Homo sapiens: one gene and its partners. The protein of the gene in region 4 purifies or fractionates together with the protein of the main gene of each other region. This does not show direct contact. Each region holds a gene or a part of one and is shown on either strand. Other genes may lie near its edges. The genes, in order: ERC1, C11orf58, ABCE1, BMX, PPM1G, CHD1 and CC2D1B.

Region 1 (3,500 bases), on a different chromosome or scaffold from region 4:
CCTCACTGTATTAGTCTGTTCTCATGTTGCTAATACAGACATACCCGAGACTAGGTAATTTAAAAAGGAAAGTTTTTTTTTTTTTTTTTTTTTGAGACGGAGTCTCGCTCTTGTCACCCAGGCTGGAGTGCAGTGGCGCGATCTCGGCTCACTGCAATGTCTGCCGCCTGGGTTCAAGCTTCTTATGCCTCAGCCTCCTGAGTGGCTGGGATTACAGGCACCTGCCACCATGCTTGGTTAATTTTTGTACTTTTAGTGAGATTGGGTTTTGCCGTGTTGGTCAGGCTGGTCTCGAACTCTTGATGTCAGGTGATCCACCCGCCTTGGTCTCCCAAATTGCTGGAATTACAGATGTAAGCCACTGCACCCTGCCAGGAAAGAGGTTTAATGGACTCTCAGTTCCACATGGCTGGGGAGACCTCACAATCATGGCAGAAGGCGAATGAGGAGCAAAATTATGTCTTACATGGCGACAGGCAAGAGAACTTGTGCAGGGGAACTCCAATTTATAAAACTATCAGATCCCATGAGACGCACTCACTACCACCAGAACAGTAGAGGGGAAACTGCGCCCATGATTCAGTTAAGTACACCTGGCCCCACCCTTGATACATGAAGATGATTGCAATTCAAGGTGAGATTTGAGTGGGGACACAGCCAAACCATATCACTCACTGTTTGGAAACGTTACTTTTAACATATATTAAATTCCCATATATAATTTAGACCCTGTTCTTGGGCTAGTACTATACAGTTTTCGTTATTATAGTTTTACAAGGCTACAATACTTTGTAAGAAACCTTGCAGGTCAGATGTGGTTTTGTTGTCAGGAATTTTTTCCAGTAATACTTAGTGGACATTATGTAGTATCCAGTAATCACACACATTGTTTTCTTAATGAAATATATGAAGTCACACTATGTGGGATACATATAAACAGTAAGTAAGCTCAGATCAGGTCAAGGTTTGCTGCTAGATGAGTTAAAAGGAAAATCTTATTTTCAGAGGTTTTTGGATTTTTGCAGTACAAATGAAGAATTATGGATTTGTAATTTATGTTGCTGTTGAGGGCTGTCTTCCTTCCTTGTTCATCTATTTTAAATTGTTTGGTTACTCTTGTATCTTTACTCTCCATTTGAATTTTAGAGTCAGCTTGTTGAGTTACTTGAAAAATCCTTCAACACCTGTGAAAGGAAGGGATCTATAGCTGGTTAGCAAAATCCTGTAGAGATTTTTCACTGGGATTGTGCTAAGTAGTTGGGGAAGAACTAAATCTTAGCAGTGTTTGTCTTCTCATCCATGAACACAGATAACTTTGTTTAGGTGTTCTTTCATGTCTTTCAGTAAAATGTTATAGTTTTTTTCCCCCAAAATTCTTGCACATTTCTGTTGATTTACATCAAAGTACTTTTATGGTTTTGTTGCTGTTGTGAATGGGATTTAAAATTTCCTTTAAATTAAAAACTGCATTTTCTAGTTGTTACTACTGATGTATACATTGATACTTATATATTGATATTGAGTTTGACCAGTTTGTTGAGTTCTGTTATTCTAATAACTTGTCAGTTGATTATCTTGGGTTTTCAGTTAGCAAGTCAGATATTCAGACATTGAGTTTAATCTTTTCCTTGTCAATCTTTATACTTCTTGTTTTTTTTTCTTTTTCTTTTTTGTAGACAGGGTCTTGCTATGTATCCCAGGTTGGTCTTGAACTCCTGGCCTCAAGCGATCTTCCTACCTTGGCCTCCCAGAGCGCTGGGATTATAGGCATGAGCCATTGCACTTGGCACTTTTTTTGTTTGTTTTCCAGTTGCATGGTATGTTTTCAGCGTTCAGTTTTGAGACATCTAAAATATCTCTAAAATATTGTTTACTATGAGTACATTATGCTGTAATCACATTCTGAATGCGTGAGTACATACATGGTAGAAGGGCTAGATCTTCTTTAAGTGGGGGTAATGGAAAGTCTCTGAGAAGGGAAATATTTATTATTGGAGGATTTAATGTGTGATCTTTTCATTACAGATATGGTGTAAGATACTTCTTCAAGATTGGACAGCTGGGGACCTTCTTCTGATTAACCTTAAACCAACTTGTAGCCATAGAGACACCTCACAAGGTTCCCATTTTTGTTGTTGTTGTTGTTGATTTTCTGCTCACACCTTTCCTGACCTTGCAACCATGTATGGAAGTGCCCGCTCTGTTGGGAAGGTGGAGCCGAGCAGCCAGAGCCCTGGGCGTTCACCCAGGCTTCCACGTTCCCCTCGCTTGGGTCACCGTCGAACCAACAGTACGGGAGGGAGTTCGGGAAGCAGTGTTGGAGGTGGCAGTGGGAAAACCCTTTCAATGGAAAATATACAATCTTTAAATGCTGCCTATGCCACCTCTGGCCCTATGTATCTAAGTGACCATGAAAATGTGGGTTCAGAAACACCTAAAAGCACCATGACACTTGGCCGTTCTGGGGGACGTCTGCCTTACGGTGTTCGGATGACTGCTATGGGTAGTAGCCCCAATATAGCTAGCAGTGGGGTTGCTAGTGACACCATAGCATTTGGAGAGCATCACCTCCCTCCTGTGAGTATGGCATCCACTGTACCTCACTCCCTTCGTCAGGCGAGAGATAACACAATCATGGATCTGCAGACACAGCTGAAGGAAGTATTAAGAGAAAATGATCTCTTGCGGAAGGATGTGGAAGTAAAGGAGAGCAAATTGAGTTCTTCAATGAATAGCATCAAGACCTTCTGGAGCCCAGAGCTGAAGAAGGAACGAGCCCTGAGAAAAGATGAAGCTTCCAAAATCACCATTTGGAAGGAACAGTACAGAGTTGTACAGGAGGAAAACCAGGTAAGTTCTACGTGTGTTTACCTTTATTGGCTGAATTCATGTATATAAATGAAATAGCCTTTTTTTCCCCTTTCCTAGATTTTTCCCTTCGTAGTATATGTATCTTCCTTTTTCCTATTGATTTTACTGTTTTGTGTCCTCCATTTCTCAGCCCTTTCCAAATTTGGTCCTGTACCCTGTTTTCTTCTAGCTGCCCATGTCTCCTTGCTCCCATTCTTGCTTGGTTCTTTTCTCTGGTTTCTCTTTCTCTTCGTGTCTTTCCTTTCAGCATATGTTATCTTTTTTTTTTTTTTCCAATTCTTCTGAGAGTATAATTTTGCCACACTCTCTAATATCTATTACCAAATGTATTTTAGAGTAGGTAACTTAAATGTAAGGTATACCATTAAGATTTGTCATAATGTCAAAAAGTCATTCTTAAAAACAAAACAAAATGACTATCACAGGATAAGTCAGTGTTGTCAGCTGAGAACAGAAATTACTTTTAAAAAGTTAATGTTGGCCGGGTGCAATGGCTCACACCTGTAATCCCAGCACTTGGGAGGCCGAGGTGGGCGGATCATTGAGGTCAGGAGTTCGAGACCAGCCTGGCGACGTGGTGAAACCCTGACTCTACTAAAAATACAAAAATTAGCCAGGTGTGATGGCGT
Region 2 (4,079 bases), on a different chromosome or scaffold from region 4:
GGCTAATTTTTGTATTTTTAGTAGAGACGTGGTTTCACCATGTTGATCAGGCTGGTCTCGAACTCCTGACCTCGTGATCCACCCGCCTCAGCCTCCCAAAATGCTGGGGATTACAGGCCTGAGCCATGGCGCCAGGCCTAATTTTTGCTTAAAAAAAAAAAAAATCACATTTGTATTCAAGGTGAGAAAGCTTCAGAATTATTAAGGACAAGGATTCTGACAGAAAGTTAAGTTCAGACCTGGTTACAAATTCAGACACCTTAATAAAGTAGGAGATAGTCTTCAGTATCTGAACAATAAATAGCTTTAAATGCAGGGCTTTTTGAGTAGAGGAGTGATCACTTGAATCTGGAGAGAGGGCGAGAAATGGGGAGGGATTGCTAACGGGCATTGGGGTTCCTTTTGGAGTGGTGAAACTTCTTGGAATCAGAGGTGACAGCTGCACACGATTGTGAATGTACTAAGTGACAGTGGATTGTACACTTTTTAAAAAATGGTTAATTTTATATGTGAATTTAACCTCAATAATTACTTTTTTTAAAAAAGAAAAAAAATAGAGGCTTTTGTGGCAGGGATGGACTTTGCTTGGTGAAGGCCCCTACTGTAACGGTGCCCAGACATCCACAGCGAGGTCAGTGAGGAGCACTCCCACCTCACACAAAGCCATATGAAAACTTAACAGATTTCCCTCAGCTAAATCCCCGTTTTCAACAACCGCCAATTAGCCAACATTTAACAACATACTGAACTCATTTCTGTATGGGAAAACAGCGAAATATTCATGAAAACATTTAGAAAGCAGCATCACCGACCACCTAGAAATCCCCTGCGCGCAATAGAGAACACCAGGGTGGAAATGGTAGAAGCCATTTTTGGTTAAGGTTTTTGTCCTGGGTGGAGGGTATTCGTGAGGATTCAGTCAGCCTCAAACATTACATTTAAACATAGGTGCCTAGCTACGATGATACATTTGCCAGTAGGGCAGCGTTGCACGGTGAAAGGCAAAAACCCCTCTAAGCCTCCTCCTGTGGCGACAAAGCTCTCGGCCAACGCTCACCGCCATACACATCCGCGGGAACGCTTCCTCCACCAGCCGAAGGCGGGGCCTCTGAGGGCACTCCCGCCACACAGCGCGAATTGAGCCTCGGGGCTTCCTGGGAATTGTAGTTTTAGTCACGGACACATCTTTTTTATTCGGGCCAGTATGCAATGAATCAGAAAACTACAACTCCCAAAGTGCCCCGGGGCGGCGAGGGGCCGCAACGGTGACGACTGTGGCAGAGAAGGCCCGGAGGGGCTCTGCGTTCTGTAGTGGCGCTGCTTGGGCCCTTGGCGGATTGTAAGCTGCTGGTTTTGCGGCTGGGAAGAGCGGCGAGAGGGTTCGGCATTTTTCGTCGGGATCCCCGCAAGGATGAGTGCTGCCAGAGAGTCTCACCCGCATGGGGTGAAGCGTTCAGCCTCCCCAGACGACGATGTAAATAATAATGGCGGAGTGGCTGAGGGTTGAGGCCTACTAAAGCCTGGAGTAGGCCGGGAAGGGTGGTTGGAGGAGGACGCGCCTGAGGTGGCCTGCAGCGGGAGAGCCCAGGGAAGAAACCAGAAGAATGAGTGGGAAATGCCTCCCTTAATCTTTATGAGGGTCAGAAGGTTTGAAGAGGCCCACACGCTGAGAGCCGGAGACCTGCGTAGGAAGGGGGATTGAGGAAGGAAATTCTGAGAGGGTCGAGGAGTGAAAGAGCTTAGTCAAGGGATTTCGTACGTGCGTTTTGGGGGGCCGATGAGAGTGCTTTCTCGGGCCTTTGTACTCAGTATAGAGACGGCAAGACTCTCCCTGTTTTGGGTTCTAAATGTTCCCGTGACAATGTCGAAATGTTCGTGCACGTTTGTACAGATTTTTCCTGCCTGGATGATTTTTACAATGTGCTGTTGAGAGTTAACTTTAGCTGCACTAGTAAGGGTAAACCGAGAACAGTATTGAGCCGAAAATTGTGCCACGGGTGTAATTTGGTACTGGCTCTGGTGGTGAGGTCTAAGACGTTGAGACCTAGAAGCCCATTTTGATGTCGGATATTAATACCTCGTTCTTCTTACCTCGTCTCCCCATCAAATGCCGTTCCCTTCCTCAGCCCTCACCTCATAGGTTTTAATAGCAAACGGTTTATCCCTTAAAGTAACCCGTTAAATATTTACTGCACTGCCGGGTGTTGGGAATTCGGAGAGAAATATGATGCTTATTTTAGGCCTTTTTGTATATTTGTCCTAGCTCCTAGCCCAGTGTCATGGAAACGGTAGGTAACCAGTAAACGTAAAACTAGGTCCTTCATACAATGGATAAGTGTCTTGGCAACGTTGATGGGGAAAATTGTTGGAGAGAGCGCGGAGAGGTCATCTTTAAGGAAGATGAAGGGATATCTAGGTTTTTTTTCGGTTTTGTTTAAAGTACTGTCAATTTCTGAATACATAGAGCTTTAAATTTTTCGATAGTGCATTTCAACGCTCTTCATAAAATTTTAAAAGCCCACTGAATACTACTTTGTAGCAAATGAGATAATGTTAAGACCTACCCCTCTGATGGGAGGTGGGGCGAGGACCGGAATATTAAGGATCTTTAAAGGAATCGACTTCAGCTCTGCAGAAAGATTAGCAATCAGTAAAGATTTGGGGATGAATGGGCACCTAGAGAAGTTTATTCTTGCTCTCTGTTATTTCTGCTACTGGATTTTAGATCTTGTTAATATGGTAATTCAGGTTTTGTCAGGAATTGATCCACACTTTTGAGTAACCTGGCTGCCACTTAAAAAGCTGTTACATTGTTTTCCTCCTGATCTTTAAATGTGACTTGATTGCTAGGATATCAGACACCTGTTTGGAAATATCTTTTAGCGTGACAGAAAACTCCAGGTGATATGAAATTTAACAAAGTTAAAGGGATTAAGTCATTAAGTTTACAGCTTCGGAAGAGGTCGGTTTAAACTAGACGACCTTGAAGACCTTTCCCAATCATATAAGCGTATCTTTAAGTACCTGGGTTTTGTTTTTGTTTTGAGACAGGTGAGACAGGGTCTCTGTCGCCCAGGCTGGAGTGCAGTGGCACGATCGATCAGTGCTCCCTGCAGCCTCCACCTCCCTGGCTCAGGTGATCCTCCTGCTTCAACCCCCTCTTCCCCCACCACCACTACAGTAGCTCGGACTACAGGTGTGCACCATTACACCCGACTAATTTTTTGTATTTTTAGTAGAGACCAGATTTTGCCACATTGCCCAGGCTGGTCTCCAACTACTAGACCCAAGCGATCTGCCCACCTCGGCCTCCCAAAGTGCTGGAATTACAGGTGTGAGCCACCTCGCCCAGCCAGTACTTAAAAAAAAAATTTTTTTAACCATAAGTAATGCATTCATTAAAATACCTCCAAGCTGTTGCAGAAAAAAAAAAAAAAACTAGCAGGCCGGGCGCGGTGGCTCACTCCTGTAATCCCAACACTTTGGGAGGCCAAGGCAGGCGGATCACGAGGTCAGGAGATCCAAACCATCCTGGCTAACACAGTGAAACCCCGCCTCTACTAAAAAAATACAAAAAAATTAACCGGGCGTGGTAGCGGGCGCCTGTAGTCCCAGCTACTAGGGAGGCTGAGGCAGGAGAATGGCGTGAACCCGGGAGGCGGAGCTTGCAGTGAGCCAAGATGGCGCCACTGCACTCCAGCCTGGGCGACAGAGCGAGACTCTGTTTAAAAAAAAAAAAAAAAAAATCTAGTTATAATATATAGTTGGGAAACAGTTTCTAATGAGCATCCACGGTATGTGAGAGATCATTGAAGTTTTCTTATGCCCATTGACCTCACATCTAATTGAGGTAACAAAACATTTTTTTACTATTAAAAGTAGATACTAAATCACAATACAACTCTAGAAAAACGCTAACAATGTAGGAGTAAATTCTAAGAGTCACCAGGTTATGTATTGAGGAGGTAAATTGATTGCAGTTCTGTAGTAAAGGGTATTAAGGATGAAAACAACTTAAAAGTCGTTTCATTGGCTTGGAGTGGAGAAATGAAAGCTATCTTATAGGAAGTGGGAAGAGT
Region 3 (3,500 bases), on a different chromosome or scaffold from region 4:
TATAAGATTTTGTAGATTTCAAGATCAGTAAGCTGAACTCTGCTTTGAGTTCACATCCAATACACTTTTAAATATTGATGTATTATTCTAAAATTTGGTCTTTCTTTAAAAAATATGATCCTTCAGTCACAAAGCAATAAAAGAAATTTAGAACAAACTACTTTTCTTGTCTTCACAGTTTTATGAAACTAATGGTGAACACAAAGTTTATGTTAATGTCCGTAAAGAATTATCAAACCAGTTGATTTCTTTCATGGTTTTCTTTTATACTTAAATGATCCACAGAACAGCTTACCCATTCGAACTACAGGACAACTCTTTTTGCATTCCTGTCGACATTTCTTAGGTTTACATTTGTCATGGTTGACAATAGCAATTCTCGTTAACTTGTCTGCCATAACTGGGCGAAAGAATATCCAGCTCTTCTATGAAAGAAAAATCAACAAATTTAATGCCATTAGTTAAGGGAACTAATTTGCATACATGAAAGACAGGAAAACATAAATGATCATTATATGGAGATGAAATGATTATCTGCAAAAAAAAAATATAAATTTTGACAAATGTAAAAATTGTAAAATAATCTATAATCTAGTAAGGTTGGGAAAATCAAATTTTACATATATACTTTAATCAGAAGATTTATATAAGGAAAGAAAAAAATGTCATTTACAATAGCGACAAAAAGAAAATATCTAGGAATATACTCAACAAGATATATACACAAGAAAACTTTAAAACAACACCAAATGATATAAATGACCTGAACAAATGACATGCTATCTCAGTTTTTATAATAAAGAATAGTTAATATCACAGATTTAAACCCTTCCTGAATTTATATATTTAATTCAATCTCATGAGAAAAAACAAACAAAAGAACCCCAGACATGTGGTGGTGTGCGCCTGCGGTCCCAGCTATTCCGGAGGCTGAGGTGGGAGGATTACCTGAGCCTAGGAGGTGGAGGTTACAGTGAGCTGAGATCACACTACTGCACTCCAGCCTGGATGAGAGTCAGACCCAGTCTCAAAAAAAAAAAAAAACCCCAACCAACCCAGACAAAGCAAATCTAAAGCTCTAATGGAAAAAGAATTATTAATAGCCAGGAAAACTGAAAAAGGGGAAGCAGGATGGGGGAAATCCCACAAGCTCTTCCCCCAAACTAAGCATTACTTCACGTCGTGTACATCTGACTATAATGACACTGACAGAAATGGCAAATAATCATAATAGCAATGAAATTAAAAGGAGACCAAATAACTATATGTATATACTATGCTCACTTTTAAAGCTTTTATAAGTCTTGATATTCCAATTTAATCAACTACACAGCATTAAGATCAAAGTTAACTTAAAAATCTTTCACAATATTGGGCTTAGTGGTTCAGAAATTAATTTCCTTAGAATGGTGATTAAAGTAAAAAATTCCAAAAGGTGCCTTAATACTCAAGTTTATTCCAATATGTAATGAATGAATCTGAAACCAAGATTATCCATTTAGAAAGAGATCATGTTGTCTTTTTCTTACTGTGATAATCAATCTTGATTTTATTTTATTTTTTTTAATAGACTGCTTCCCTTTGTAGACATCTCAAGTCTTTTTCACACCCATCAATATCATTAGGCTTGGATGGGGATAAGAGATCTTGCTCCTCGACGCTGTCCTAGACTATTATCTCTCCCTCCTCCCTAAAAAGTTTTGCATCTCAACTATCTAACTGCTTTAGTTAGTAGTGACCACCAGATCACTCCCTTTCATTCTTTGAAGATTTCAGCCCCTGTTAACTTTCACACACTCTTTTACAACTCCTGACATAGTTCTCGATTTCAATATGCTCACAGATGACCCTCCTGTCCTCTCATTTAACCCCTCTCCTCAAACAGCTTGTCTTCTACCTTACCACAGCCATTCATTTTTTCTGGTTACATCCTAGACCTTATCATTACCAGTAATTGCAATCCTTCTATAACCTCAACTTCAAATACTCCATTCTCCAACCACCATTCTTATCTTTTTAGTTCACCCCCTACTACACAACAATCCAACAACTCTGATTCCTCCATTCTTCAAACCTTTCATTATCTCTTGATTCTATCATATTTCCACTGTCCCTCAGCTCTTGGTGTTTTTATTTTCCTTCTCACCCAGCTAAAATACCCTAAATCACAATCTTGGTTAAATTCGACTCTTCACCTGCACACATAGAGCTGAAAATGGTAGGTGAAAAAAAAACACAAAACCTGCTGACTAGTCTCCCTTTAAATTCATCATCTCAAATGGACCCTTATGCCAACCAGCAATGACACTGTATGTATTTCCCTGGCTAAGACCATTTGTACACTAGAAGACATTCCATAAGAATGTCCCAACAATTCTCCCTTCTGTCTTTAACTTCATCAATTATTCTCTCCACTGGCTCATTCTTATCAGCATTCAGGCATTCTATTATCTGACCCCATCGTCTCCCATTGTTTTATTTTTCCTTCTTCAAGACTACTTCAAAGAGTTGCTTATACTCAATGTCTCAAATTTCTTGCTACATGCTCTCTGGAATCCATTCTAGGCTCTAGAGCCCATCATTTAATCAAAACTTTTCGAGCCATCATTGTTCTTCACATGGCTAAAACAAATGGTTATCAGACCTTAATTCACCTGACCAATCAATTGCATCTGACACAAATAAACACTTTTCCTACTAGATAAAAACCCTTTCTTAACTTGGTTTTAGGATACAACACTAATCTGGTTTTTCTACTGTTTTCCTGGTCACTCATCTTCATCTCCCAGGCTTCTAAATGCAGAGTGCTCTAAGACTTGGTCATTTTTTTCCACATATACTCATTCCCCAAGTTGTTCTATTCTGGTCTCACAGGTTTAAATTCCATTTATATACTGCAAATTTCCAAATTTCTATCTTTAGTCAGCATACCTCTCTTGAACCCTTCCTGCCCACCTAACATCTCTGGAAGGCTTAAGAGGAATCTCCCAACTAAGCTCCTGATATCCTCACCAAAATTTCAGCAGTCTTGCCCATTTTGTTAGATGGCAACTCCAGTCTTCCATTTGCTCAGGCCCAAATCCTTGAAGTCATTTTCTTTTCCACCTAATAACAGCAAATCCCACTGAAGCTATAAAACATCCAGAATCTGATCTCATGAGTTTGGTGTAAGCTATCACTATCATCTCTTACCAGCATCACTCAAATAGCTTCCTAACAGATCTCTTTGCTTTTACCCTCACCTCTTTCTACTCTAACCCTCAACAGTTCATTCTCAACACAGGAACCATAGGAAGCCTTTTAAAGAGTAAGCTAGATCATGTCACTCCTCTATTTAAAATCCTGCAATGGCTTCATTCTCAATCTGAGTAAATGCCAAAGTCCTGAAAATAATCAATGAGGCATTGATCAGCCTCTGTTAACTTTCTGATCTCATCTCCAACTACTCTAGCTCTTGTATGGCTCCAGCTACATTGGCTCTTTGTTGTTCCTAGCACATG
Region 4 (3,500 bases):
AGGGAATATGAGTGATGGTGCCTCAAAGCAGTAACTTTTTGCTTAGAGCTTGAGAGTCAAAGTTAAGGACCCACATGTATACTTCGGCTCTAGCGAGTCTAAGGTGAGTAAAGCCTTCAGATTATCAATAAAGAAAGATTTTAACTATTGGGCATGTGAATTCAAATAACGATGCAATTTCACAAAGCAAAGAAGAACATAAGAAAGTTTGTTTCTCTGGCCTACTGCTCAACATTGCTACTTTTCATGATCAGACCTGATATTAGACTGAGGGTTGAAGTAACTGTCTTAGTAGAATTAGAAAATTAATGCATTTATTTTTCAGAAATACCTTAAGTTTTAATGTTTTACATGATTTTGGGATAAAAAGGAAGAGTCTTTTTACTTTGTAAATGTACTCATTTTTTCAGTTCTTTTAAATCTCTTTTGATAGCATCTGTTAGTGCACCCTCATACATTTTCCTCATTTTATCTTATCTTAGGCATTTACTTTGATTTTAAATTCTCATAGATATTGAAAATTATACCTGTGTAATTTATGTTAAAGATCTGGCCATGATCAGGGGCTGCAGGTGTTATTTACAATAATGTCAGTGTCTCATAGTGGTTTGGGTAATTTGGTCAAATTACAGGCCGTTACTTCATAAATTGTGAGCTGTCTGGAGTTAAATTTTCTGAAGTTTTATTATATCCAATTCAATTCAACCAACACATATAGAATGTTTAAAAAGTAAGGAGCATTTTGATAAGGTGGTCTGGAGAATGGGGCAAAGATGATGAATTTATTATCCACAGTGGGAGGAGTCAAAAGTATAAAGTGCTTTTTAAAAATCAACATATTTATAAAACCCAAAGCAAAGGCAGCAGAAAAACTGTAGCTATTGTGTAATTTATTCTATAATCCTACATCAGTCTCATTTATTAAAATCAGCATTTATATTATCCCTTAATAGGAAATCGTTGAGGAAAAGATATGAAGGTTAAAGAGAACTTACCTAGATGCTGCAAATACTCATTTTAATTATTTATTTTGTTTAGGATGATAATATGGATACAAAATCTATTCTAGAAGAACTTCTTCTCAAAAGATCACAGCAAAAGAAGAAAATGTCACCAAATAATTACAAAGAACGGCTTTTTGTTTTGACCAAAACAAACCTTTCCTACTATGAATATGACAAAATGGTGAGACATCATGTGTTCCATTATTTTTATACTATTTATTATTTTTCCTAAGTCTCCACAAAGTACTTGATCATAATGAAAGAATATCAGGTTTCTTAACTTACACTGTGAAGATCCTCTTCTATCCACTTATCACATGACCTTTTCTTAATGAAAGTATAATGAATTCAAGATAAAGGATTTTAAAACATTAGTTAACTTTACTAAGGCAAATTATAACTTTAGAACAGTGGTTCTCAACTGAGGGCATTTTTGCTCCCCAGGTGACATTGGGAAAAGACTGGAGATATTTTGGGTTGTTCCAACTGGGGGATAGGAACAGTAAGTGTTAAAGACATCTAGTGAGTAGAGGCCAAGAATGCAGCTAACCATCCTGCAGTGCACAGGACAGTCCTCACAACAAAGAATTACCCAGCCTTAAATGGCAATAGTGCCTTAAAACAATGCTAGAAATAAGACTATTCCTGTACAGTTGAGAATTCTACTATAGTAAAAACACTGAAATACTGTCATAAGACTGAGCCAAAATGAAGATGCTTTGCAGAAGTTAAATCTTGATTTTCCTGAGTATATTAACCACATGGTAGGTGATTTGAAACACATTTCAAGATAATCAAACAAGATTATTAACCACTGGAATATATGTGTTTGTGTCCAGACTCAAGGAATAGATTATGTTGTCATTGGATTTTGACTATTACGGGGTAATAGGAAGTGACTCTCCATTGCCCACCCCCCACCCCAATCTCCCTCTCAGGCATAACTTGGGCTTTATGCCTTTCCTTGTGCACCATGATGTATTGCAGGAAGTATCTTACATTTTGTTTTTTAATTCAGAAAAGGGGCAGCAGAAAAGGATCCATTGAAATTAAGAAAATCAGATGTGTGGAGAAAGTAAATCTCGAGGAGCAGACGCCTGTAGAGAGACAGTACCCATTTCAGGTAAAGGGAAGAACGACATTGCATTGGGTGGATAGTTCTTCCTTCAATTTTTCTATCGTGAACTCAATATATCTAGGAAAAATAATGATATTTCAAAATAATCTAAACAAGGCTTGGAATATTCCCACATGGGAGTTGGGCATTTTGCTAAAATTCTGTCCACCAATCTGCCTTCCCTGGAGGGAAGGGAAGGGAAGCAAGACAGGAGCGTAAGTCGCAGTGACCTGACCTGCCTCAGGTCTGATCATCTCTTTTAACAAACATTGCTGAGTATCTCCGATGTGGTACACAGTAGTAGGCATACTATGGGGAACAAAACACTGCCCCTACCCCAAGGCATTTACAGGGAAGTGGCAAAATAGACTAATACACAGACCATTACAAAGCAGTGAGGGTGAGAGTTAAGGTGGAGGTCAGCAGAATGCATCCATGGAGTCCCAGGATGTGGAAGTTTCATTCCTCACTCCAAGAGGCTAGAGAGATATTCTATTGGAGGTGACACTCAAGTTGAGAAGGACAAGTAAAATTTAACCCAGCAAATATGAGAAGGACAGTGGTACAAAGGAAGCAGCAGGTGTCAAGGCACTGATGAGTGAAACAGTATGACACATTTAGAGAGCACTAAGTAGTCCCTATGAATAAAGAAGCCCATGTGACAGTGAAAGAGATAGCCTGGAGAGGTGACCATGCTAAGGAGTTTTCATTTTACCCTGAAGTATTTTAAACAATGGTATGGTATGTAGTGTATGCTGGTAGTACCTTTTGGAAGTGGCCTAATCTAAGTCATGCCCTACTTTTCTTATAGCATAAAATCTTACATTTCTGATCCAAAGGTAGATGGATTGTCTTTCAGATGGCCTGACTACCCAGTGCTAGTATTAGGAACCTGTGGCCAAAAATGAAATACAATAATCCAGTTGATTAACAACCCATACTTCCCATTTGGAAAAAATATTACCAGGCCAGGCACAGTGGTTCATGACTGTAATCCCAGCACTTTGGGAGGCCAAGGAGGGAGGATCACTTAAGGCTGGGAGTTCAAGACTAGCCTGGGCAACATAGCGAGACCTCATCTCTACATAAACATTGTTTTCATTAAAAAAATTACCCAATTGGGGGAAACCAGGGGAGGGCATGCTCATGGAAGATGCTGCAAACTCACCTCATAGAGGCATAGTGCTCAAAAGATCACAGGCTTTGGAGCCCCCAGAGAGTTCCTAGTTCCACCACTTATACTTGTGCAACTGTAAACACATACTCAACTTCTATTTCTCACAGAGTTGAAATAAGATTAAAATACTGAAGTAGCTAGGAAAGAGCCCAGCAACTAGTAAGTGTTTAACAAATGCTGTGTATATTTACCAACAAGAGTT
Region 5 (3,500 bases), on a different chromosome or scaffold from region 4:
GAGATCTTACTAGACTATTCCTTACATCCTAATCTTCCTCCTGAGAGATAACTGCTTAGGGTATTAAAATCTTGCTAATGTGCTGTTTCTGAAGTTGCCCTTGTTTGAATAAATATGCCTAATCAATAGTTAAATATGCCTAATCAAATCCTCTTGAAGAGTATTGTTTGGGATCCTATTCTGCTTCATTGATAGTGTTCCTTCTGGCTTTTTTTCTCTTCAAAGTGTAGCATAGTTTCTTTGCTATTGCAAGAAAATAACTATGAGTTCTAGCCTCTTCCCTGAATCTTATCTTTCCAGAAAATATAAAGTACTCCCATTCCTCTGAAGCTTTAGGGCTTAATCCAAAAATTAATAAAGTTTATTTACCCTATTTGCTTGGTCCTAATGCTTCATTTGAGGTAAGGTTATCATACCACTAAAGGTTGTTGACATGCTGACTGATGGATAGATTTAGCCGTAGAGAGGACTCTTGAGACAAAAATGGCAATCATCAATAGCTGGCATTTTTACTTTCTGCCTGTTTCAAGCTTCTCTTCCTGTGTGACCAGGGTGTTGTTGTTGTTTGTTTTGTTTTGTTTTGTTTTTGAGACGGAGTTTCTATCTTGTTGCCCAGGCTGGAGTACAATGGCATGATCTCGGCTCACTGCAACCTCCGCCTCCCGGGTTCAAGCGATTCTCCTGCCTCAGCCTCCTGAGTAGCTGGGATTACAGGCATGTGCCACCACGCCTGGCTAATTTTGTATTTTTAGTAGAGATGGGGGTCTCTCCATGTTGGTCAGGCTGGTCTCGAACTTCTGACCTCAGGTGATCGGCCCGCCTCTGCCTCCCAAAATGCTGTGAGCCACCATGCCCAGCAACCAGGGTGTTTTGAGAAAAGGTAATCAAAATACCACAGGCCAGTCGTGGTGGCTTAACGCCTGTAATCCCAGCAGTTTGGGAGGCCGAGGGGGGCAGATCACCTGAGGTCAGTTCGAGACCAGCCTAGTCAACATGGTGAAACCCCGTCTCTACTGAAAATACAAAAATTAGCCAGAGGCCAGAGAATTGCTTGAATAGGAAGGCCAGTGAGCCGAGATCTCACCGCTGCACTCTAGCCAGGGTGACAGACTCCGTCTCAAAAAAACAAACAAAAAAACCACCACAGTTGATGTTCTCCTCCTTCCTCCTTTCTCCATGAAAAAAGTGGATGAGGTATGTACTTTGGGATTAAGAGGTAGGCACTGGGCACGGTGGCTCATGCCTGTAATCCCAGCACTTTGGGAGGCCGAGGTGGGCGGATCACGAGATCAAGAGACCGAGATCATTCTGGCCAATATGGTGAAACCCTGTCTCTTCTAAAATACAAGAATTAGCTGGGCATGGTGGCGCACGCCTGTAGTCCCAGCTACTCCGGAGGCTGAGGCAGGAGAATCGCTTGAACCTGGGAGGCGGAGGTTGCAGTGAGCCGAGATCGCACCACTGCACTCCAGCCTGGGCGACAGGGTGAGACTCCATCTTAAAAAAAAAAAAAAAAAAATGAGGTAGGTTGTGGAGGGGTGCCTGAAAAATTATAAGGTAAGGCCCTTGAGTTTTTGTTGGCTAAATAAGAAGTCAAATCTGAAAATAGATTCAGTTGATGTAGTCTTTTTTTTTTTTTTTTTTCTCCGAGACGGAGTCTTGCACTGTTGCCCAGGCTGGAGTATAATGGCATGATCTTGGCTCACTGCAACCTCTGCCTCCTGAGTTCAAGCGATTCTCCTGCCTCAGCTTCCCGAGTAGCTGGGATTACAGGCGCCTGCCACCATGCCCGGCTAATTTTTTGTATTTTCAATAGAGACAGGGTTTCACTATGTTGGCCGGGTTGGTCTCCAACTCCTGACCTCTTAATCCGCCCGCCTCGGCCTCCCAAAGTGCTGGCATTACAGGCGTGAGCCACCATGCCTGGCCCATCAGTTGATGTAGTCTTAAGGGGACAAGAGTACATTTAATATTTGGTTGTGAGGTTCTCTGGAAGTGACAAAACTGCTTTCTATGGAGAGTTAGGAATTTTTTTTTTTTTTGAAACGGAGTCTCGCATTGTCACCCGGGCTGGAGTGTAGTGGCTTGATCTCGGCTCACTGAAACTTCCGCCTCTTGGGTTCAAGTGATTCTCCTGCCTCAGCCTTCCAAATAGCTGGGATTACAGGAGTCTGCCACCAGGCCAGCTAATTTTTTTTTGTATTTTTAGTGGAGACAGGATTTCACTATGTTGGCCAGGCTGGTCTCAAGACTCCTGACGTTGTGATCCACCTGCCTCGGCCTCCCAAAGTGCTGGGATTACAGATGTGAGCTACCGTGCCCGGCCAGGAATTTTTTGTGCTATAAATCATATTTTCCTTTTATTAAAGGCAGTGTCAATATCTATAGTATAATTTTGAGGAGGCTGGCTATTTATTGCTGTGTAGAAGCTGGCTTATTAGTGGTCAAGGGGTCATCTAGAATTGACTATAAAGATAGTATTGAGCAGAAAATTCTTAAAATACCTGCATATTTGTTTCAGTCATTAAATTAATGGAAAAAATATAAAAAGAAATATCACAAGTATGCTATGGGGTTCTACCTTAGGGCATTGAAGGTTGAAAAACATTTATTTTCTTATCTTCAGATTAGCATCTCATATCAATAGCCAATAGCTTAAAGCGCTTTTTACTTACTAAACCAGGTCAGAATTTCTCTCTCTCTCTCTTTTTTTTTTTTAGACAGAGTCTCTGTCACCCAGTCTAGAGTGCAGTGGTGTGATCTCGGCTCACTGGCCTTTCTGTTTAAGTGATTCTCCGGCCTCAGCCTCCTGAGTAGCTGGGATTACAGGCATGTGCCACGACACTTGGCTTATTTTTTGTATTTTTAGTAGAGATGGGGTTTCTCTGTGTTGGTCAGGCAGGTCTTGAACTCCTGACCTCAGGTGATCTGCCCGCCTCCGCCTCCCAAAGTGCTGGGATTACAGACGTGAGCTACTGCGCCTGGCCAGAATTTCTTTGTCTAGAATGTGGTTAGCAACTTTTATAAAAACGCATTATTTGCATTTGATTAGCATGCAGTACCCATTCACAGTTCAAAGCTAGTATAGAATTATATCACATGTATGCCCATGAGCATGGAGAAACTATTTTCTTTTTATTTTTTTAAGTTGGAGTTTTGCTCTTGTTGCCCAGGCTGGAGTGCAATGGTGCCATCTCGGCTCACTGCAGCTTCTGCCTCCTGGGTTCTAGCAATTTGCCTACCCCAGCCTCCCAAGTAGCTGGGATTACAGGCACTCGCCACCATGCCCAGCTAACTTTTTTGTATTTTTAGTAGAGAAGGGGTTTTCCCATGCTGGCGAGTCTGGTCTTGAACTTCTGGCCTCAAGTGATCTGCCCGCCTCAGCCTCCCAAAGTGCTGGAATTACAGGCATGAGCCACTGTGCCCGGCCTTTTTATTTTTTAAATTATTTATGTATTTATTTTGAGACAGGATCTCACTCTTGCCCATGCTTGAGTGGT
Region 6 (3,500 bases), on a different chromosome or scaffold from region 4:
AAGAATATTTTCCAGAGTGTTTTTGTTTTATAAATATTTCATTTTTAGCATGAGTAAAAGCAACAGTATTTTTGATAGCGAATATAGTTTGGTTGATTTGATCATCTTTGTATTAGGGATAAAACTTGCCATATAAGTACAAATAAAAATACTTTATAAATTTTGTCTGCAGTGAAGATTGGCAAATGTCTGGGTCAGGATCTCCATCTCAGTCTGGTTCAGATTCAGAATCTGAAGAAGAGAGAGAGAAAAGCAGTTGTGATGAAACAGAATCTGATTATGAGCCAAAAAACAAAGTCAAAAGCAGAAAACCTCAAAATAGGTATGGTCTCAGTTTGGTGCTGAAAATTGATTGTGGAAAGTATTTGTTCTTTTTGTATATAGTTTCTCAAATCTTGTTTTTTTTTCTCTTTGCACTTTCCTAGATCTAAGTCAAAAAATGGAAAGAAGATTCTTGGACAAAAAAAGAGACAGATTGATTCATCTGAGGAGGATGATGATGAAGAAGATTATGATAATGATAAAAGAAGTTCTCGTCGCCAAGCAACTGTTAATGTTAGCTATAAGGAGGATGAAGAAATGAAAACAGATTCTGATGACCTACTGGAAGTCTGTGGAGAGGATGTTCCTCAACCTGAGGAAGAGGAATTTGAAACCATAGAAAGATTTATGGATTGTCGGATTGGGAGAAAAGGAGGTAGTTTTTAAAAAACCATTTATTGTTTGGTTATTTAAATAATATTTACAGGAGTAGAGGGCTGGGCACAGTGGGTCGCCCCTGTAATCCCAGTACTTTGGGGGGCCGAGGCCGATGGATCAGGAGTTCTAGACCTGAGGTCAGGAGTTCTAGACCAGCCTGGCCAACGTGGCAAAACCCCATCTCTACTAAAAATAGAAAAGATTAGCTAGGTGAGGTGGTGCGCACCTGTAGTCCCAGCTACTTGGGAAGCCGAGGCAAGGGAATTGCTTGAACCCACGAGGCTGAGGTTGCAGTGAGCTGAGATTGCACGACTGCACTCCAGCCTGGGTGACAGAGCGAAACTCCATCTCAAAAAAAAAAAAAAAAGGTAAAGTATTTAAGATTTTTCTACAGTGTTGAAAGCTAAGAGGGTGGATTTTTTGTTGTTGTTGTTTTACTTATGTTTTATAAAAGCTACTTTGCTTAGCCTGAGTACCTTCTTAATAACCACCTGACCACATTTCTTTTTTCTTTTTTTTTTTTTTTTGTGACAGAATCTCGTTCTGTTGTCCAGGCTGGAGTGCAGTGGCACGGTCTCAGCTCACTGCAAGCTCCGCCTCCCAGGTTCACGCCATTCTCCTGCCTCAGCCTCCCGAGTAGCTGGGACTACAGGTGCCTGCCAGGACACCTGGCTGATTTTTTGTATTTTTAGCAGAGATGGGGTTTCACCGTGTTAGCCAGGATGGTCTTGATCTCCTGACCTCGTGATCCGCCCGCCTCGGCCTCCCAAATTGCTGGGATTACAGGCGTGAGCCACCGTGCTGGGCCTCCAGCTGACCACGTTTCATATATTGTGGATAATTATAGAATAATGCTGTGGGATCTCAGGTGGATCTCTGTCTTTTTATTTTTTCTAATTCGAAAAAGGAGGGGATTATATTAGATAATTCTGAAATTCTCAGTTTTATTTATGAGCAATAGAATTTCCCATAAGTTTCTATACCCCCAATACTTTATTTAAAAGAGTATATATTTTTGTACTCATATTATTGAAATTTTGAGTTGAAATATAATCCTACAACAGAATTAATTACATGGAAGGATCTTGTGCTTTTGTTTTCAGCTACTGGTGCTACTACAACCATCTATGCAGTTGAAGCAGATGGTGACCCAAATGCAGGCTTTGAAAAAAACAAAGAACCAGGAGAGATTCAGTATTTAATTAAATGGAAAGGATGGTCCCATATCCACAACACTTGGGAGACAGAAGAAACCCTCAAGCAGCAGAATGTTAGAGGAATGAAAAAATTGGATAATTATAAGAAAAAAGATCAGGAAACAAAAAGATGGTAAGTATGCTGTATATCATATACTTCTTTTAATAGTTCAAAGATTACTAAACCTTTATGTTAATAAAGAATACATAGTAACATTAAATGATAGCCTAAAATAGCTATAGACTTTATAATACAGTTGGCTGTCTTTGTCCACAGCTTCTCTATCCTTGGTTTCAACCAACCATGGATTGAAAGTATTCGGAGGGAAAAAAAACAACAATAACACAAATTAAAAACAATACCATGTAACAACTATTTGCACTGCATTTACGTTGTAAATGTAAAATTGGGTATTATAAGAACATCTAGAGATGATTTAAAGTATGGGGGAGGATGTGTGTGGGTTATATTTTAGGTACCATGTCATTTCATATAAGGGACTTGAGCATCCTCAGATTCTGGTATCTGTAGAGGATCCTCAACCAATCCCCTGCAGGTAGTGAGGGATGATTTTATTCCATCTCAAGGTAAAACTCCTAGAGGTATACCTATCTAAACCTATCCTTGGTAACAGTCACATAGAGTGTGTCTCATACATTATAAATTACAAATTTTTAGTTAAAAATTAATGATGCTTTATTCCTGTTTGAGTTTCTTTATTACTCAAACTTGGCCCACACAGTGGCAAAATGGGAGATTTTGTGCTACAAATAGTGTTGGGGATGGGGGAGTGAAAGGTTATTTATGGGAGATTTTTAAGTCTATTCCTGGATTAATAATTTTTCAGGTTGAAAAATGCCTCTCCAGAAGATGTGGAATATTATAATTGCCAGCAAGAACTTACAGATGATCTACATAAACAGTATCAAATAGTGGAACGTATAATTGGTTAGTGATAAATGATTCTAGTTAAACTTTCTTTTTATGCTTGAAATAATCTGAAAAAAGTCATAAGTTTGCCACTTACATATCAAACACAGTAGCTTGCTCTTACTAAAACAGTATTGTAAACTAGATAGCTAAATTTTACTTGTGTAGCCTTTACTAAGAATTATGTATCTGATGATTAAATGTAAAAAAAAATAAATAAATAAGTAAATGCCTGATTCTCTCACAGCTCATTCCAATCAAAAGTCAGCAGCTGGTTATCCTGATTATTACTGCAAATGGCAGGGCCTTCCATACTCAGAGTGCAGCTGGGAAGATGGAGCTCTCATTTCCAAAAAGTTTCAAGCATGCATTGATGAGTATTTTAGCAGGAACCAATCAAAAACCACTCCTTTTAAAGATTGCAAAGTGAGTATTGTCTAACATTTTAAATTATTAAAAATATATTTATACATTATAAATATTTACAAGCCTAAATACAAGAGTTGGATCCTGATTTCAGATAGACTAAGGGAGAATATTTCTTGGTTAATAGGTCTTACAGGAAGTGAACTTCTGCAATTGCTGTGTGTTTTTTAGTTTTAGTTTTATAATTTTTTATTTCAAACTTTCTCTTAAAAAAATTGTAAATGATGTTTTCGTCAATGTATCTTCTT
Region 7 (3,500 bases), on a different chromosome or scaffold from region 4:
CAACTCAAAGTGGTGGGTGGGAGGGTCGAGGCCCTGAGCCTGGGCCAGCTGCAGGATCTCCAGCTGTTTCTTGCGGTCCTGAGCAAGCTTCTCAAATCTGACAGGGATGGGTATGTCAGCATGATGGTGGATTTTCTGCTCCCCACCCTATGAGCCCAGCCCCAGCCCTTGCACTTACCGGGTGGTCTCAGCCACGTTGCCCTGGTGCATGAACTGCTTGGAGAACAGCAGGCACTTCTGAAAATAGAGGCCCAGAGTGACTCCCGAGCCCAGAGCAGGACCTGCCTTGGTTGGCATTCAAGGCTAGACTTCTCAAAGCTTCAACTTTCCTCTGTAGCCTCACCTCTCTCCTCCCACAACACAGCCCCAAGGGCACTACTCCCAAGTCCCACCACGTTTCTCTGCCTACACTTTTGTCATTTTCTCTTCTGAGGAGAGCCATTCCCCAAATTAGCAACTCCTTCCATCAAAACCTAACTCAAACATCCCCTCAGAAGGCAGCCTTTCCAGAACAGGTGGCAGTTCAGATAGATAAATACATAAACATACACGCACATCACAATGTTCTTTCCCTCTTCTCTGTTGTTTGTACCACCCTGAAAGGGGTATTATCACCCCATCTCATAGATGAGGAAAATGTAGTTCAGAGAAGAAAGTGCCTTGCCCAAGTCACACAGTGAGTAAGTGGAAGAGCTGAGAATTTTGAGTCCAGGGCTGTGTGGTCTGAGCTCCAGGTCTTCCTCCACGGGGAGGCTGTGGGCACAGAGGGGAGGAACAGACGAGGGGCCTGCTGACCTCTTGTTGCTCCAGAAGCATTTTTTGCAGCTGGGCATACACCTCCTCCGCCTTCTGGGAGAGTCGCAGGTCCTCATGGTGGATGAGGATGAAGTCACCCTCCTCATCCGTCAAGGGCGAAGGCACCTACCCAGGTCACAAGGCCCCTCGGGCCCCAAGAGTCAGATTACTCCTCTACCAAGTCCAACAAAGGCAGGAGCCCAAACTAAGTAATTCTTCAGCTTCTACTAAAGTCCAGTGATGACAACTCATCGCCTCCCATTCTATCCCAAAATAACACTCTTGCCTCCCATGGCCTGGCCCAGCCTTGTCATCTCTGACCACAGGCAGCCCACCTTCCCTTCTCCTGGTTTCCTTTGGGGCCGTGAGGTAGAGGAGTATGAGCAAAAGGCTCTTTCCCAGCTGTCATCATGCTCTGTCCAAACCCTGCCTCATCCCAGAAGCTGCCCTTGTTCACAGCCTGTCAAGCCTGCCAGCCGCCACCTCCGCCTGAGAAGTCCTGGTGGTTAACCAGGTGGGACTCACCTTGGACAGATCAACAGGTCTGCCAGATCGGGCCTGGATGATCTGAGCCTCAAGCCATTTGGCTACCCGCAGATAGGCTTTGGCCTGCTCCAGGTCCTGGCTGCGCTTGGCCTGCAGGGCTGCCCGCTGATACTGCAGTTTCCGTGCCTCCAGCAGTGCCAGCTGCTCCCGCACTGAAGGGAGAAGGCCACTGGTTAGGGCCACACCTGCCCTCTCTAGGCCCTCAGTTCTTCACCCTGCTTGTCCCCAACTCACCAGATGGACTCGGTGACTCCTTAGAACTTGAGGCCCTGGGCTCAGGCAGGCGCTGGGATGAAGGGACTGTGGGCCGTGCAGGTTTCTTGGCCACTGGGGCCTGTGCTGGGGGCTCACCCTGCAGGTGCCCAGGAGGCTGTTAGGAGGGGATGTGTTCCCTAGCATAGTCATGGCGGCTCCCAGACTTGGGCTGTCTTCCTAACACTGTACTACATCGCTGTGTGACCTGAGATGGGTGGCTTCTCTTCCTGGGTCCTAAAAGATCTGAGAGCTAGAAGCAGCCTCAGAAGCTCTCACATCTAACCTCCCCAGCAGGAGAGAGACTGCAGGGTAATGGGGATGGAGCCGGGGCTCTGGGTTCAGAAAGACCTTGGTTTGAATCCTAGTTCTGCTATTTCCTAGCTGGGTGTCCTTGGGCAAGTTTTTTCTCTGTACAGTGGAGGAAAGAATATGTACCTTATTGGGCTTGTTAGTATGGACAACAGGGTCTGGGTTTACCCCTCACCTGCTATTCTCCCCACCAGCCCTGGAGTTGAGCCCTCAACCAAACCTCGTCCTCGTCTTTATCAGCCGGGGCTGAATCCTCTGCAGAGGCCAGTTTCTCTGCAGCTGCCAATGTCGCTGCCACTGCGTCCTCCTCAACACCCATAGTGGACTCCAGGCCAGGGATGGGGGGAAATCCTGTGGGAGAGAGACAGCATGGGAGGGGCAGGGAGCAGCCTCAGAGAAGCACAAAGCTACCCGGGGCCCTGTCTGGGGCATGGCTCTGCTGGGGCATGGCTGGGATGGATGGCTCCACAGAGGGGAGGCAGACGCATGAGAAGTGGGAATCACTGGCTGTCCCCCATTCCCTTCTTGCCCAGGGACCACCTCCTCACAGAGCCCCTAGGCCATGCCCCACTTACCTGGAGGAACAGGCAATTCAGCAAAGTTGACTTTCCGTCCTGCTCGGTGTGCTCGAATAGCATCTTGATATTGCTGCAAGGGAAGGAAGGGAGGGGCCTGTGGTCGGCAGCAGCCCACAGGCCCCCTGCCCAACATGACACACAGTGGGGCAAGGAGAGGGAGACTGGTGGGAAGACAGCAGCCCTGGGAGAAAAAAAGATCCCTAAGGCAGCAAGAGCCCCAGAGAGACAAACAGATGATGGTTCAGAAAAGACAAGGACTAGCCGGAGGACCAGGGAGACAGAGCACCCAGCCAGGGAAGAGGCCAGCACAGGCAGGGGCTGCATAGCCGCGGGCCCACCTTGGCAATGCGCTCATGCATCCGAGCCTTGCGCTCGTCCCCACCACTCCGGGCCTGGATGCCCGCCTCGCGGTACTTGTTCAGCCTCTGCTGCAGGGCATCCAGCACTGTCTGTGACTCTGTAGGGGCCACTTGAAGGAAAGAAGGAAGAAGTGGGCATCAGGTCAGCCTGCCCTCCAATGCCTGCAGGTCCCCACGCCACAGTCCCACCATCCTGCCCTACCTGGGGTTGCTGGGACGTCAGGGGCCATCACTGGCTGCACTCGCTCCACGGCTGGGGGAATGACTGAGGGTGCTGTGGGAGCCTGAGAAGCCTGCTGGGGCTTCAGATCTGGGGGACCCAGAGTAGAGGTGTAGGTGGGAGGGCCTGGCCAGCCCCAGGCCTGCTACTCCTCCCCAACCCCACCGCAGCCTGAGAAGATACATACTGACCCTCAGGTGCCGGGGGCATGGCACTCAGATCCACGGGCTGCCCCTTCTCCAGGGCCTCCAGGACAGCACCGAATCTCTGCAGAAGTTGGAAAAGCAGGTGTGGGTGAAAGACAGGGGACCCCAAGAGCCTGGGCTGAAACAACCCCCACTTAGGCCAATCTCACTCAATCTCAGTCTAGCTCCCTTTCTGAGCCTGTTTCCCCTATCTATAAAATGAGGGTGGGTGCCCTGAGCCAGATGCCATACC

What was found.
Region 1: the proteins of BMX (region 4) and ERC1 purify together in Homo sapiens (affinity purification with mass spectrometry; one large-scale study listed by BioGRID and IntAct). This does not show direct contact.
Region 2: the proteins of BMX (region 4) and C11orf58 purify together in Homo sapiens (affinity purification with mass spectrometry; one large-scale study listed by BioGRID and IntAct). This does not show direct contact.
Region 3: the proteins of BMX (region 4) and ABCE1 purify together in Homo sapiens (affinity purification with mass spectrometry; one large-scale study listed by BioGRID and IntAct). This does not show direct contact.
Region 5: the proteins of BMX (region 4) and PPM1G purify together in Homo sapiens (affinity purification with mass spectrometry; one large-scale study listed by BioGRID and IntAct). This does not show direct contact.
Region 6: the proteins of BMX (region 4) and CHD1 purify together in Homo sapiens (affinity purification with mass spectrometry; one large-scale study listed by BioGRID and IntAct). This does not show direct contact.
Region 7: the proteins of BMX (region 4) and CC2D1B purify together in Homo sapiens (affinity purification with mass spectrometry; 2 studies listed by BioGRID and IntAct, with this or other methods). This does not show direct contact.

Annotation. Positions count from the first base shown.
Region 1 is NC_000012.12:1,025,723-1,029,222, forward strand, and holds part of ERC1 (ELKS/Rab6-interacting/CAST family member 1), read left to right. Parts: intron 1-2,025; 5' UTR 2,026-2,181; coding exon 2,182-2,850; intron 2,851-3,500. UniProt on the Homo sapiens protein: Regulatory subunit of the IKK complex. Probably recruits IkappaBalpha/NFKBIA to the complex. May be involved in the organization of the cytomatrix at the nerve terminals active zone (CAZ) which regulates neurotransmitter release.
Region 2 is NC_000011.10:16,737,368-16,741,446, forward strand, and holds the start of C11orf58 (small acidic protein), read left to right. Parts: upstream 1-1,279; 5' UTR 1,280-1,411; coding exon 1,412-1,474; intron 1,475-2,188; exon of another isoform or gene 2,189-4,079.
Region 3 is NC_000004.12:145,101,311-145,104,810, reverse strand, and holds part of ABCE1 (ATP-binding cassette sub-family E member 1), read right to left. Parts: intron 426-3,500; 5' UTR 399-425; coding exon 296-398; intron 1-295. UniProt on the Homo sapiens protein: Nucleoside-triphosphatase (NTPase) involved in ribosome recycling by mediating ribosome disassembly. Able to hydrolyze ATP, GTP, UTP and CTP. Splits ribosomes into free 60S subunits and tRNA- and mRNA-bound 40S subunits.
Region 4 is NC_000023.11:15,507,307-15,510,806, forward strand, and holds part of BMX (cytoplasmic tyrosine-protein kinase BMX), read left to right. Parts: intron 1-1; exon of another isoform or gene 2-103; intron 104-1,038; 5' UTR 1,039-1,047; coding exon 1,048-1,185; intron 1,186-2,022; coding exon 2,023-2,127; intron 2,128-3,500. UniProt on the Homo sapiens protein: Non-receptor tyrosine kinase that plays central but diverse modulatory roles in various signaling processes involved in the regulation of actin reorganization, cell migration, cell proliferation and survival, cell adhesion, and apoptosis.
Region 5 is NC_000002.12:27,403,092-27,406,591, reverse strand, and holds part of PPM1G (protein phosphatase 1G), read left to right. Parts: intron 1-3,500.
Region 6 is NC_000005.10:98,898,008-98,901,507, reverse strand, and holds part of CHD1 (chromodomain-helicase-DNA-binding protein 1), read left to right. Parts: intron 1-172; coding exon 173-322; intron 323-425; coding exon 426-697; intron 698-1,802; coding exon 1,803-2,028; intron 2,029-2,743; coding exon 2,744-2,844; intron 2,845-3,073; coding exon 3,074-3,252; intron 3,253-3,500. UniProt on the Homo sapiens protein: ATP-dependent chromatin-remodeling factor which functions as substrate recognition component of the transcription regulatory histone acetylation (HAT) complex SAGA. Regulates polymerase II transcription.
Region 7 is NC_000001.11:52,356,206-52,359,705, forward strand, and holds part of CC2D1B (coiled-coil and C2 domain-containing protein 1B), read right to left. Parts: coding exon 3,500-3,500; intron 3,330-3,499; coding exon 3,254-3,329; intron 3,153-3,253; coding exon 3,045-3,152; intron 2,953-3,044; coding exon 2,822-2,952; intron 2,554-2,821; coding exon 2,481-2,553; intron 2,257-2,480; coding exon 2,126-2,256; intron 1,712-2,125; coding exon of another isoform or gene 1,694-1,711; coding exon 1,576-1,693; intron 1,494-1,575; coding exon 1,321-1,493; intron 922-1,320; coding exon 796-921; intron 238-795; coding exon 179-237; intron 98-178; coding exon 1-97. UniProt on the Homo sapiens protein: Transcription factor that binds specifically to the DRE (dual repressor element) and represses HTR1A gene transcription in neuronal cells.